Linked DNA regions of Homo sapiens: region 1 is linked to region 2. Evidence: fine-mapped expression QTL. A gene starts in region 2. The other region holds a variant in brackets. All regions are shown on one strand. Distances are from middle to middle.

Evidence for each region. PIP is the estimated chance that this variant, and not a neighbour inherited with it, causes the effect.
Region 1: its variant is the best candidate, but not a certain one, in a credible set for the expression of ACP6 in uterus (GTEx, PIP 0.87).

Annotation. Positions count from the first base shown.
Region 1 is chr1:147,643,993-147,649,368 of GRCh38, forward strand. ACP6 (acid phosphatase 6, lysophosphatidic) reads right to left here. Exons shown (of 10, transcript NM_016361.5): 9 at 4,254-4,419; 10 at 1-3,574. The coding sequence ends at 3,431. Among named protein-coding and RNA genes, the nearest start is that of ACP6, 24 kb to the right of the region's middle. The variant A/G (reference allele first, on the strand shown) is at 2,706.
Region 2 is chr1:147,668,270-147,673,645 of GRCh38, forward strand. ACP6 (acid phosphatase 6, lysophosphatidic) reads right to left here and starts at 2,255. Exons shown (of 10, transcript NM_016361.5): 1 at 1,561-2,255. The coding sequence starts at 1,779. RefSeq lists enhancers at 1,103-2,046, 1,258-1,317, 1,958-2,207, 2,648-2,717.

The DNA of each region.
Region 1 (5,376 bases), 24 kb before region 2:
TTCCTGCAAGCCCTTTTTATAATGGCATTAATCCATTAAACATCCCCATTAGGCTCCACCTCCCAGTAACATTGTACTGGGCACTAAGTGTCAACATCAAATTTAGAGAAGACAAAAGCACTCAAACCACAGCGACTGTACACCTGAAAACTACTAAAGAGTATATCTGAAACATTTTCACCACAAGAAAGTGATGAGTAGATGAAGTGATGAATATGTTAATTAGCTTGATTTAATCATTCCCTCATGCATACATATATCAAAACATCACATTGTACTCCATAAATATACGCAATTATTATCTGTCAACTAAAAAGAAAGTAAAAAGTTTTTATTACAAAAAAGAAGAAGAATGGTAAGATGGCGAGTATGGCTGGGGTGCAGTGAGATGTCATAGGACCGTGAGGGCATTATGACTGGCCCTTAGTTTGAGATGAGAAACCAATGGGGAATTTAGAGCAGAAGAGTGGCACGATCTTACTTTGTTTTAAAAGCAACACTGTGTTGAGAATAGATGGGCAGAGAAGGGAAGGGCAGAAACAGGAAGACTAGTTACGAGGCCTTTACAATAATCCAGGTAAAAGATGACACTGGGACTAAGACAGTAGCAATGGAAGTATTGGGACATGGTCAATTCTGGATATAGTTTGAAGAGAGATACAACAGGAGTTACTGATGTAGTAGAGGTAGGATATGAGAAAAAGAGGGGAGTCAAGGGCAGTTCTAAAGTTCTTGGCCAAAGCAACAGGGTGAATGGTGGTGTCATTTACCTAGATGGGAAAGCCTGTGGAAGGAGTAAGTTTGAAAAGGCACGGAAATTGAGAGTTTATTGTGGACAATGGGAAGTTTGATACCTATTGTATATCTTAAACATCCAAATAGAGACATTGATTAGACTGTTGGAAATGAGACTGGGATTCACAGGGAAAGGTCTAGGTTGAAGGTATAAATTTAGGAGACATTGTGTAAATATTTAAAACTGGAAATTCTTTTTTTTTTTTTGAGATGTTATTTCTCTCTTGTTGCCCAGGCTGGAGTGCAATGGCACGATCTTGGCTCAGCACAACCTCTGCCTCCTAGGTTGAAGTGATTCTCCTGCCTCAGCCTCCCAAGTAGCTGGGATTACAGGCACATTGTACTCCATAAATAGACACATACAGCCTTCCGAGTAGCTGGGATTACATCACATTGTACTCCATAAATATAATAATTTTATAAAATTATAATAATTTTATAAAAATATAATAATTTTTGTATTTTTAGTAGAGGCAGGTTTAGTGGAGACAGGGTTTTGCCATGTTGGCCAGGCTGGTCTCGAACTCCTGGCCTCAGGTGATCTGCCTGCCTTGGCCTCCCAAAGTGCTGGGATTACAGGCGTGAGCCACCGCGCCCGGCCTCAAACTGGAAATTCTTGAGATCACCTAGTGGGTGAGTGTAGGGGAAAAGGTGGAAAAAAGGTCCAAGGAGTAAGCCCTGGGACACCCCAACACTTACGGATTAGAAAAAGGTAGATTCAGCAGGAACAAAGTCGAGAAATTGGAGGAAAACCAAGAAAGCATTTGTCGAAGCCAGTGAAGGAAATAGTCTAGGAATACTGATGAGAAGCTTAGTAAGAAGAATGAAAACTGGCTATTGGATTCACCACACAAAGGCTATTGATGATTTTGACAAGAGCAGTTTCCATGGAGTGGTGGGGGTGAATACTTAATTGTAGCTGGTTCATGAGAGAACTGGAAGGGAAGAATTAGAGGTAGCAACTCTTTTGAGGAGTTCTGCTATGAAGGGGAGAAGGAAAAGAGAACAGCAGTTCAAAGATGCAGAGAAAAAAGTTTAAGAGATTTTACAGCATATTTGTATTGCTAATAGAATAATTGGTCAGGAAAAAAATTGACAATCCAGAAAAAAGACACTAGGAGTCAATGTAAAGCTAGAGGGTTGGGCTTTGATAGGAATAGTGTTGGTTCATTCTTAGTAAGAGGGAGGAAGGAAGGCTATAAAAGCACCAATGCAACTGGGTTAGCAGATTTGGTGGTTGGGTGTTGGGGGATGTGGAAGTTTTCTTCTGATCTCTTTTAGATTCTTAGTAAAATAGGAAATACAGTAACCAGCAGACTGAGGATGGGAAGGGGATGCTGAAGATTGAGGATAAAGATATGTGAATAGATTAAAGAAATAAACAGGTAGTATTGATAAAACTTAACTGATTAGACATAGGAAAATGTGAGACAAAGAAAACAAAGACAGATTTCTGATTTGGCAACTGGGTGGAGAGTGGAGGTGTCTTTCATTCAGATAGGGAAGTGTGTGGGAGAAGCAGGTCTGGGAGGAGGGGGGTTTGATTCTAACATGGAAAGTTTTGTGCCAGTGAAATCCAAGTGGATAAAAGTGTCTGAAGCTCAGAAGAGAAACCTGAGCTTGAGATATCTCAGCTCCCTGATCTGGAAGTTGTCAATATTAAGATAGTAGGAAGTGGAGAGGCTTTTGTGGTTGCTGTTTTCTCTGAGAGGTAAAGGGACTGGTGGTTTGAAATCAGAGAAGGGTTGAAATAGATTCTGGAGAAGAACAGCAACATTGACAAGGAGATAGGGGGATCATCAGGTACTCTTAGGGGGCACAGTTAAAGGTGGAGCTCTTATGTTGAGTAGTTCCAGCCTTACCATTGCAGAGCCCTGGGGCCCACATTTGTTTCTGGAACTAAAACCACC[A/G]GGGGCCCAGTGTCCTTCCTGCTTCTTCCTGCTGAGCCTCCACATCAGGGTTCCATCTCACCACCCAGCAACGTTCCCTGACCTTGAAGCCTATCCTTTATCTAAACGCAACACGCTTTCATCCTTGCTTTCCTGGTTAACTCCTACCCACCTTTCTCTACTCAGATCAGGCCAGGACTTTTTCAGAAGCCTTCCTTGACTGTTCCCCACATCCCCTGCCATGTGAGCAGGAAGTTTCTTCTCTATACCCAAATAGCCCCTCAAATACCTATTACAGCATAAAACATACAGCACTGTATCACTGATTTACTCGGCTGCCTCTCCCACTGGACTGCAACAACTTGAGGGCAGAGTGTTTTCACCTTTATAATGATCACTACTTAGTAGGTAGCTCAATACATGTGAAATTAATATAGGAGAAAAGAACTAAAGTCCAAAACCGACACAATTCTACAGGGTCATGATGTCCCCAGCCCGTGTCACACAAAGATGCTTCTAACCTTAGAAACCAACTCACAAAATAGAGAAATATCCTTTTGGTCTCAATATTATACCCCTTTTCCGTTCAGGAAGAAATCTTAGTAAACCCACAGAAAGGAAATATCCTTACATTATATTAAAGTACATTACCCCTTGCTCTCTCCTCTTCCCAAACACACAAAGCAGGAGGCATTGTATAAAGGCACTTTATTTTAAAATCAACACATCCTGCTTTTATAAATCAGTTACTCTTCATTTCCAACTTCCATCACCTGAGTTTGAGAGCAGAGTGCGTGGTATTTTTCTGGGCTTAAGGTATAAACTGACATGGCATTCAAGAACATGTCCAGCGGGCAGAGCCCATCAGGGCAACCTCTCGGCACCTGCTCCTGCAGAAGAAACATAACTCAGCAGGTCCGCCGAGGAACCTGTCCTTCTGCTATTTCCAGCTAAGCCCAGAGATCTGAGAGGCTCTGATCCATGTGGTATACATGTGCATACATATTACAGACAGGAAGGCCCCACTACCCGGTGAGCTTCCAGAATAAAAGCACTATGCTCTGCTTGTAAAAGTCACTCAAAAAGTGTTGAATTGACTGGGAAGAAAGAGTCGAGTTACATCCCCGAGCTGGGAGAACCAACAGGCTCATCCCTGGGGCGTGCTCTGGCCTCTGCCCTGGACCCCAGCCCTGATGAAGCAGCCAACACCACGGGTGCTAACAGCAGCACACATCACCTCCCAAAGATACCACCAACAATCTCCAAAACAGGTCTCACAGCCAGGAGGCGACATCCTGACAGGGACGCTCAGGAGAAGAGGAGGGGGACCCTGTTCCTAGGAGTCTGTAACAGAACTGGGATAAGGCTCAAGCCCCATCCTGCCACCATCTGTCAAGTTCTGCCTGACCCCTGGGCCATAGCCAGGAGTTGCCCTATAGGATTCAGAGAGCTGACTGTGCCAAGAGAGACTCCACTGGGCCTGAGGAGGGAGACTTGGTGCTAACTCAGGTAGGTGGGTTTTGCAGGAGGGTGCCTCACCACCACCCAACCCCACCTCAGGGGTATTACCTTCCCGTGGTAATAGAGCTGCACAAACCACTCCTTAGATTCCAGGTGCTGGTAAAGTTCCATGGTCAGGTCAACAGCAAACGGTGGCCATTTGTGGTCAAAAATCCCCAGGGTCATTAAGAGCGGTATGAAGGTCACATCATGAGCCGCATAGAGATACAGCTTTCTGCAAGAGGAAACAGCTCTCCACAATTCTCTGCCTCAGGACTCTGAAGGTCAGGATGTGGCCTGCCTCCTTTACGTAAGACACACTTGCCTCAGAAACTAGGTGACATCTAGAAATCAGCTGAGCCTGGTATAAAAGTCCTTTGCAGTAGATCGTGGGAAGAACCCTTGTTCCCACTCCCCGTGTCTTCATGAGGAGGGTCCCCGCCAGAGAAATTCTCCTGGCCTCCTCCTTGCCACCTACTCACTCCTCCCTGGTGAGTTTCAAAGAAGAAACTGAGCGTGTGTGGCTTAGACCCTACCTCTCTTCTCTCTTTGGGTCCTGCCAGCCTACATGAATGCCCTTCCTACTCTCAGCCATGGGATGAGTTTAGTAGGGCTCCTTGTTGGGGAAGCTTGAAGTTTTGGGGTATTAAGTTTATTTCAAAATAATATTCACAAGCCCATTTGGCCCTCAGCACATTCTCCAAATGGCTTTAATCTGTAATAAGAATGCCATTTTAATCTACATCTGCCTGACACCAGTATCCATCTCTTAGGAAAGACCAAGGATTTTATTTATGGACCCCCATCCTAGAAGACTAGCATTGGATCCTGTGGTGTTCTAAAGATCCAAGGCAGAAGGTGGCAAGGTGGCAAAAGCCAGAAAAAATGTACTGTCATTGCAGGTACTGTGAAGGACAGGAAATGGTATTCACAAGATTTGCTATTACAAATCTTGGCCCAAAGTTCCTGTTTCAACTCACTGTCTCCTATTCCTCTTACGCCATCATGAGTTTCTAGCTGTGATACCACAACAGTGCTTCTCCAAAATTCAGGTGACTATCAATCACCTGGGGATCTTGTTAAACTGCAGATGCTGATTTAGTAGATCAGGCTGGAGCCTGAGAACCTGATGAGTTCTTGGGCAACGGTGAAGCTGTTTTCCTGCAGAACGCACTTAGCAAGTGCCTAGGAC
Region 2 (5,376 bases):
CTACACAGATTGAAGATGAATGAAGCTGGTATCCTAAGCTACAACGGACCTTTCAACCATAAAGGCAGAAGATATCCATCACACACCCACTCTCCCTTAGGGATAAAGCCCTAAAAGAATCTAAATCTTTTCCTAGTGCCTTCAGGATATATATATATATATATATGGTACATACTAGGTCTAGGCCTACACATTCAAAGTTTTACTCTCCATTACCACTGATAATTTTTTGTCTTCTACGTGAATATAATATATATTCCTACATGTGATTCCCCAGTCCTTCTGTACCAAGAATAAATAGAGAAGAATTGGGGGAAGGGGAGCATCAGAGATGGGCTGTATACAAAATCATAAGGAAAATTTAGTGATCTAATATAAAAAGGCAAAGTAAGAGACTGAAAAAAAAATCAAAGAATCAAAATGAAAGAAGAAATCCCGGTTCCAGAGAGCAAGTGGTAAAGCCAGAGTAAGGCTAACTAGAAACCTGGTAATAGAATTAAGTGCCTTCCAAATGTATTTATTTATGTGGAAAATGCTTTAGAAGTTTAATTTCATGTGCGGCCAACCTTGAAAAATGGGTTTCCAGTTGTACAATGTAAAGACACAATCCTGAAGGTTTCTAGAAAGCAACTGTTATTATGAAGAGTATACCTAACATCAATTTTGGACAATCTTTTCGACCTCCTCCAACATCAACCTGGAAGACCAACGATACAAAAGCACTCCACAGGTGTAATACCTGGGAGTTTGGGGATTTCAGGTTGCCTGTTCCTCTTCACTAGGCCTTTCTGCTATAAAAAGTCACATCCAGGAAAGATAATCATTTTTTTTTAAACTATTTGTGCTTTAGTCATAATTATCCTGACAAAACCAGACAGATTTTTAAAACATTACTGCCACAGACTAGCCCATTTTAAATTTGTTCCGACCTCAGATCCCTCCCACTATAGGTTTAGTAACCTTAAATAGAAAAGGAGAACCCTAGAATACAACACTTGTTACAAAAAAAAACTTCAGGAGATCTCAAATGGCCTCCAGCAAACCCTGAGAAAAAGCAGTTATAAAGTTTGTTTCCAAAGGCAACGACCTCTTATCCACTGTAATCTCAGTTAAGAGTGGTTCCTATCACTAAAGTCCCTTCAGCCCTTCAGCTCTGACAAACCACCTTCAAAATGGTCACACAGAAGTGCACTGCACCCTTGTATTCAAGTTCACCTAGACCCTTAATAGAAATGCTGACCTGGGGCACTACTCCACACCTGCTGAATCAGAATCTGCAACGTAGCAGGATCCCCAGGCGACTCCCATGCGTCTTAAGCAGCGCTTACTGATGGCTGCGCCATCAGGGCAAAACTGGAAGTTCCGGGGCTGTCCTAACCCCAGCAGGTCCTTTGCTCAAGAGCCTGGGGAGTCACTGGCTACTGCTGTTTTCCCTTCTTCTGGACCCAACCCGAGCCCCGCTCCGCGCGAGTAAAGCTCTGAAGATGTGTGTCAGGGCGAGACTCCTGGCCTGGCACACGGTCCTCGCCCCACCAGCCCCAGCCCGGGCCGACCTCTCACCTGCTCCTCCAGCGGGAGCGGCTTGAGAGGACTCCGAGCCCCGTGTCGAAACACGACCTGCACCATTTTCAACTTCAGCAGGCTGCGGTCGACCGGACACTGGCCATCGGCCTCCTGCAGCTCGGCCAGGGCCACCCGCCGCTGGTGCAGGCAGTACGCCAGCGAGGTCAGGACGCCCACTGGGGTCCACAAGCGCATGCTGAACACACCAGTGATCATGGTGGTAGGCCCTCGCTGCCCTCCGGGTTGAGGCTGCAGGAGGCAAACACAAGTCTTCTGCGGGCGCCGGGGCTCAGCGGGCGCCCCCAAGTCCGCGGGAACCTGCGGATGCGTACATCCAGCCCTTCAGCAAGCAGGGACCGCTGTGCCTCCCGGCCCTGAGGGAGACCCCGAGTGGGAACGGGGGAGAGAACAAGAGGTGGCAGCAGCGAAGAGTCCCTGGGAGTTTTAACCCGGGTCGGGGTTGGTCGCTCCTGCTGCACACCGGGCCGGGGGAGATCGGATCCTTATCTTTTGCCCGACGAGGAACATTAAACTTGTATTTCAAGTTTGGCCTCCAGCACTCTTGAAGGAACAGGAGCCGGCCCTGAGTTCCCTGGCGGCAGCGGCTCCACCAGCAAGGACTACTCGATTCCACTTTTCTATAAGCAAGCTCCTACCCACCTCCTCACCTACTCAGGGACCCGTCCCAAGTGGACCCGCGCACAGGAGCACGGGAAAACGAGTCCTGTGGTGACACCTCGCCTGGAGACTCAGAGCTGCGGAAACTACAACTCCCACAAGGCTGCGCGTACCGCGGCTCCCAAGAAGTGGCTTGTACCCGCCCCCCTCGCCTGCGGGCCTCGCCCCTCCGGCCCAGCCAGCCGTTTTCCAGGCGTGGATGGCCCACGGACGTGCCTGGTCCGGCAGTGGAGTGGTAGTGAATCTGTCGGGCCATGGAGTTTGCCAGGCAGGAGGATCGCGAGCGCAGGAGTAGAACTGGGTGGTGGAGGGGAGTAGTTTGAGTCTAGTTTTGAATGTAGAAGACTTCCTTCCAGTCCTGGAAGCCTGGTTGCTGCAGCGAGGAGCTGAGACACCTGCCGAGTGATTGCCATTTGCGAAACACAGCACTAGGTGCTTTATATTTAGTCATTTACTACTCCCTTCTCTGTTTTTAAAAAAATTCTCAAGCTTAAGTCATTGTAATCATGTAGAACTTTCAGGTCACTGATGTGTTTACTTCCATCCAGAATACTTCTTGTGGAAAAAGCCAGGCCTTGCCTGTGGGTGTCCCAGTGATTAAGAACCTAAGAGGCGCCATGGCTCACGCCTGTAATCCCAGCACTTTGGGAGGCCGAGGCGGGTAGATCATGAGGTCAGGAGATCGAGACCATCCTGGCTAACACGGTGAAACCACGTCTCTACTAAAAATACAAAAAAAAAAAAAAAAAAAAATTAGCCAGGCGTGGTGGCGGGCACCTGTAGTCCCAGCTACTCAGGAGGCTGAGGCAGGAGAATGGCGTGAACCCGGGAGGCGGAGCTTGCAGTGAGCCGAGATCGCGCCACACGACTCCAGCTTGGGCAACAGCGCAAGACTCCGTCTACAAAAAAAAAACAAAAAAAAACCTAAGAACACAGAACAATGCCAGCCTTACCACCTGCTAGTCTGGTTTCTGTTGATATACAGGTATCCCAAGCCTGTGTTTCCAGATCTTTGCAACAGGACACAATCTGGGACCCACTATGTGTCTATCTCCAAAGATCAAACTGGGCCAGATGTAAAGACAACATACTTACAGAGCATGGCTCCTGGCCTGAGAACAAATTCTGTTCACCAAGCTGGAAGGTTCTGAGTGCTCCCCTCCCTGATGCAGGGAGGAGGGTCATTTTGGAACACTACATATTGTCACAATTTTCTCCCTAGCCCAGCCAAGGGACTCACTTTTCAGAGTCTTATTGTGTGTGCTGATGTGATTAAAAATCGAATACTGTTTGCTATGGACTCAGTTGTGTCCCCCGCCAAATTCGTACCCACTAAGTGACTGCATTTGGACATAGGACTTTTAGAAGGTGATTCTGTCAGAGGCATTTGAACCATAGTGACTCCATCTTGAATAGCGGCTGGGTAAAATGAGGCTGAGACCTACTGGGCTGCATTCCCAGGAGGTTAGGCATTCTCAGTCACAGGATGAGGGGGGAGGTCAGCAGGACTGGTATCACAAGAAACCAGTCAAAAAGACCCTGCTGATAAAACAGGAAGTGGTAAAGAAGCTGGCCAACACCAACCAAATGCAAGATGTTGATGGAAGTGACCTATGGTCAAACTCACTGCTCATTTTACGTTAATTATAATGCATTAGCATGCTAAAAGACACTCCCATCAGCACTATGACAATTTACGAATGTCGGGGCCAGCAGTTACCCTATATGGCCTAAAGTGGGGAGGAACCCTCAGTTCCAGGAAATCCCACTCCTTTCCCAGAAAATTCATGAATAATCCACCCCTTGTTTGGCATATAATTAAGAAATAACCATAAGTATTTTCAGTTGAGCAGCCCATGCCCCTGCTCTGTCTATGGAGTAGCCATTCTTTTGTTTCTCTTTTTCTCTAATAAACTTGCTTTCACTTTATGGACTCGCCCCAAATTCTTTCTTGCCCGAGGTCCAAGAACTCTCTCTTGGAGTCTGGATCAGGACCCCTTTCCAGTAGCAATTTTGGTTAAGTGAAGATATAAATGTGAGGTCCTAATCCAGTAGGATTGATGGCTTTATAAGAAGAGAAAGAAGGATCTCTCTCTCCACACAGGAGATCTGATGGTTTTATAAGTTTTTGGAAATTCCTCCTTCTTTCTCCTCTCTGGTCTGCCAACTTGTGAAAAAGGTGCCTGCTTCCCCTTCTGCCATGATTATAAGTTTCCTGAGGCCTCCCCCTGTCCTCAGCCATGCAGAACTGTGAGTAAATTTACTCCTTTGTTTATAAATTGTAGTATCTTTATAGCAGTGTGAAAACGGACTAATACAGCAATGGTCCTGTCAGGGCTCATGTGTCCTGTTGGAGGGGGAGTGTGGGGAAGTGTGGGGAACAACTTAGCAGCAGATCTCCAAAAGAAACCAGAGTGAGGGTGGAAAATAGCTGATTTCATGTGGTTGTTAAAAGCACTGTTTGTCAACACATGTGAGACAAACCATGGGGAGTCCAGATGTATTTTGTGTGTGATAGTAGTGGCAGTGAGCTGCAATTTAAAAGAGGCTGGGCCGGGCGCGGTGGCTCACGCCTGTAATCCCAGCACTTTGGGAGGCTAAAGCAGGCAGATCACCTGAGGTCAGGAGTTTGAAACCATCCTGGGCAACATGGTGAAACGCTGTCTCTACCAAAAATACAAAAATTAGCCGGGTGTGGTGGCACACATCTGTAATCCCAGCTACTCGAGAGGCTGAGGCAGGAGAATCGCTTGAACCTGGGGGCAGAGGTTGTAGTGAGCCGAGATTGCACCACTGCCCTCCAGCCTGGGCGGCAAAGTGAGATTCCATCTCAAAAAAAAAAAAAAAAAAAAAAAGAGAGAGAGAGAGAGAGAGAGAAAGAGAGAGACTGGAAGTCCTGACCCAGGGTAGGACCGTGTGGGTGGGGGTGTTAGGGTGGTTGCAGGAAGCAGGGGAACACTGAGTAGCTGTTATTTTGACCCTGGTTTTAAACTACCAGGCAGGGATGGCTCGGGAAATAAGCCCTTTCCCAGCCAAATTGTCTTCAGAGGATTGCATTTAATATTATGTAAAAACTCAGTTTTAATAATGAGATTAGATAAGAAACAACCACATTCACATTTTTTTCCCCAGTGG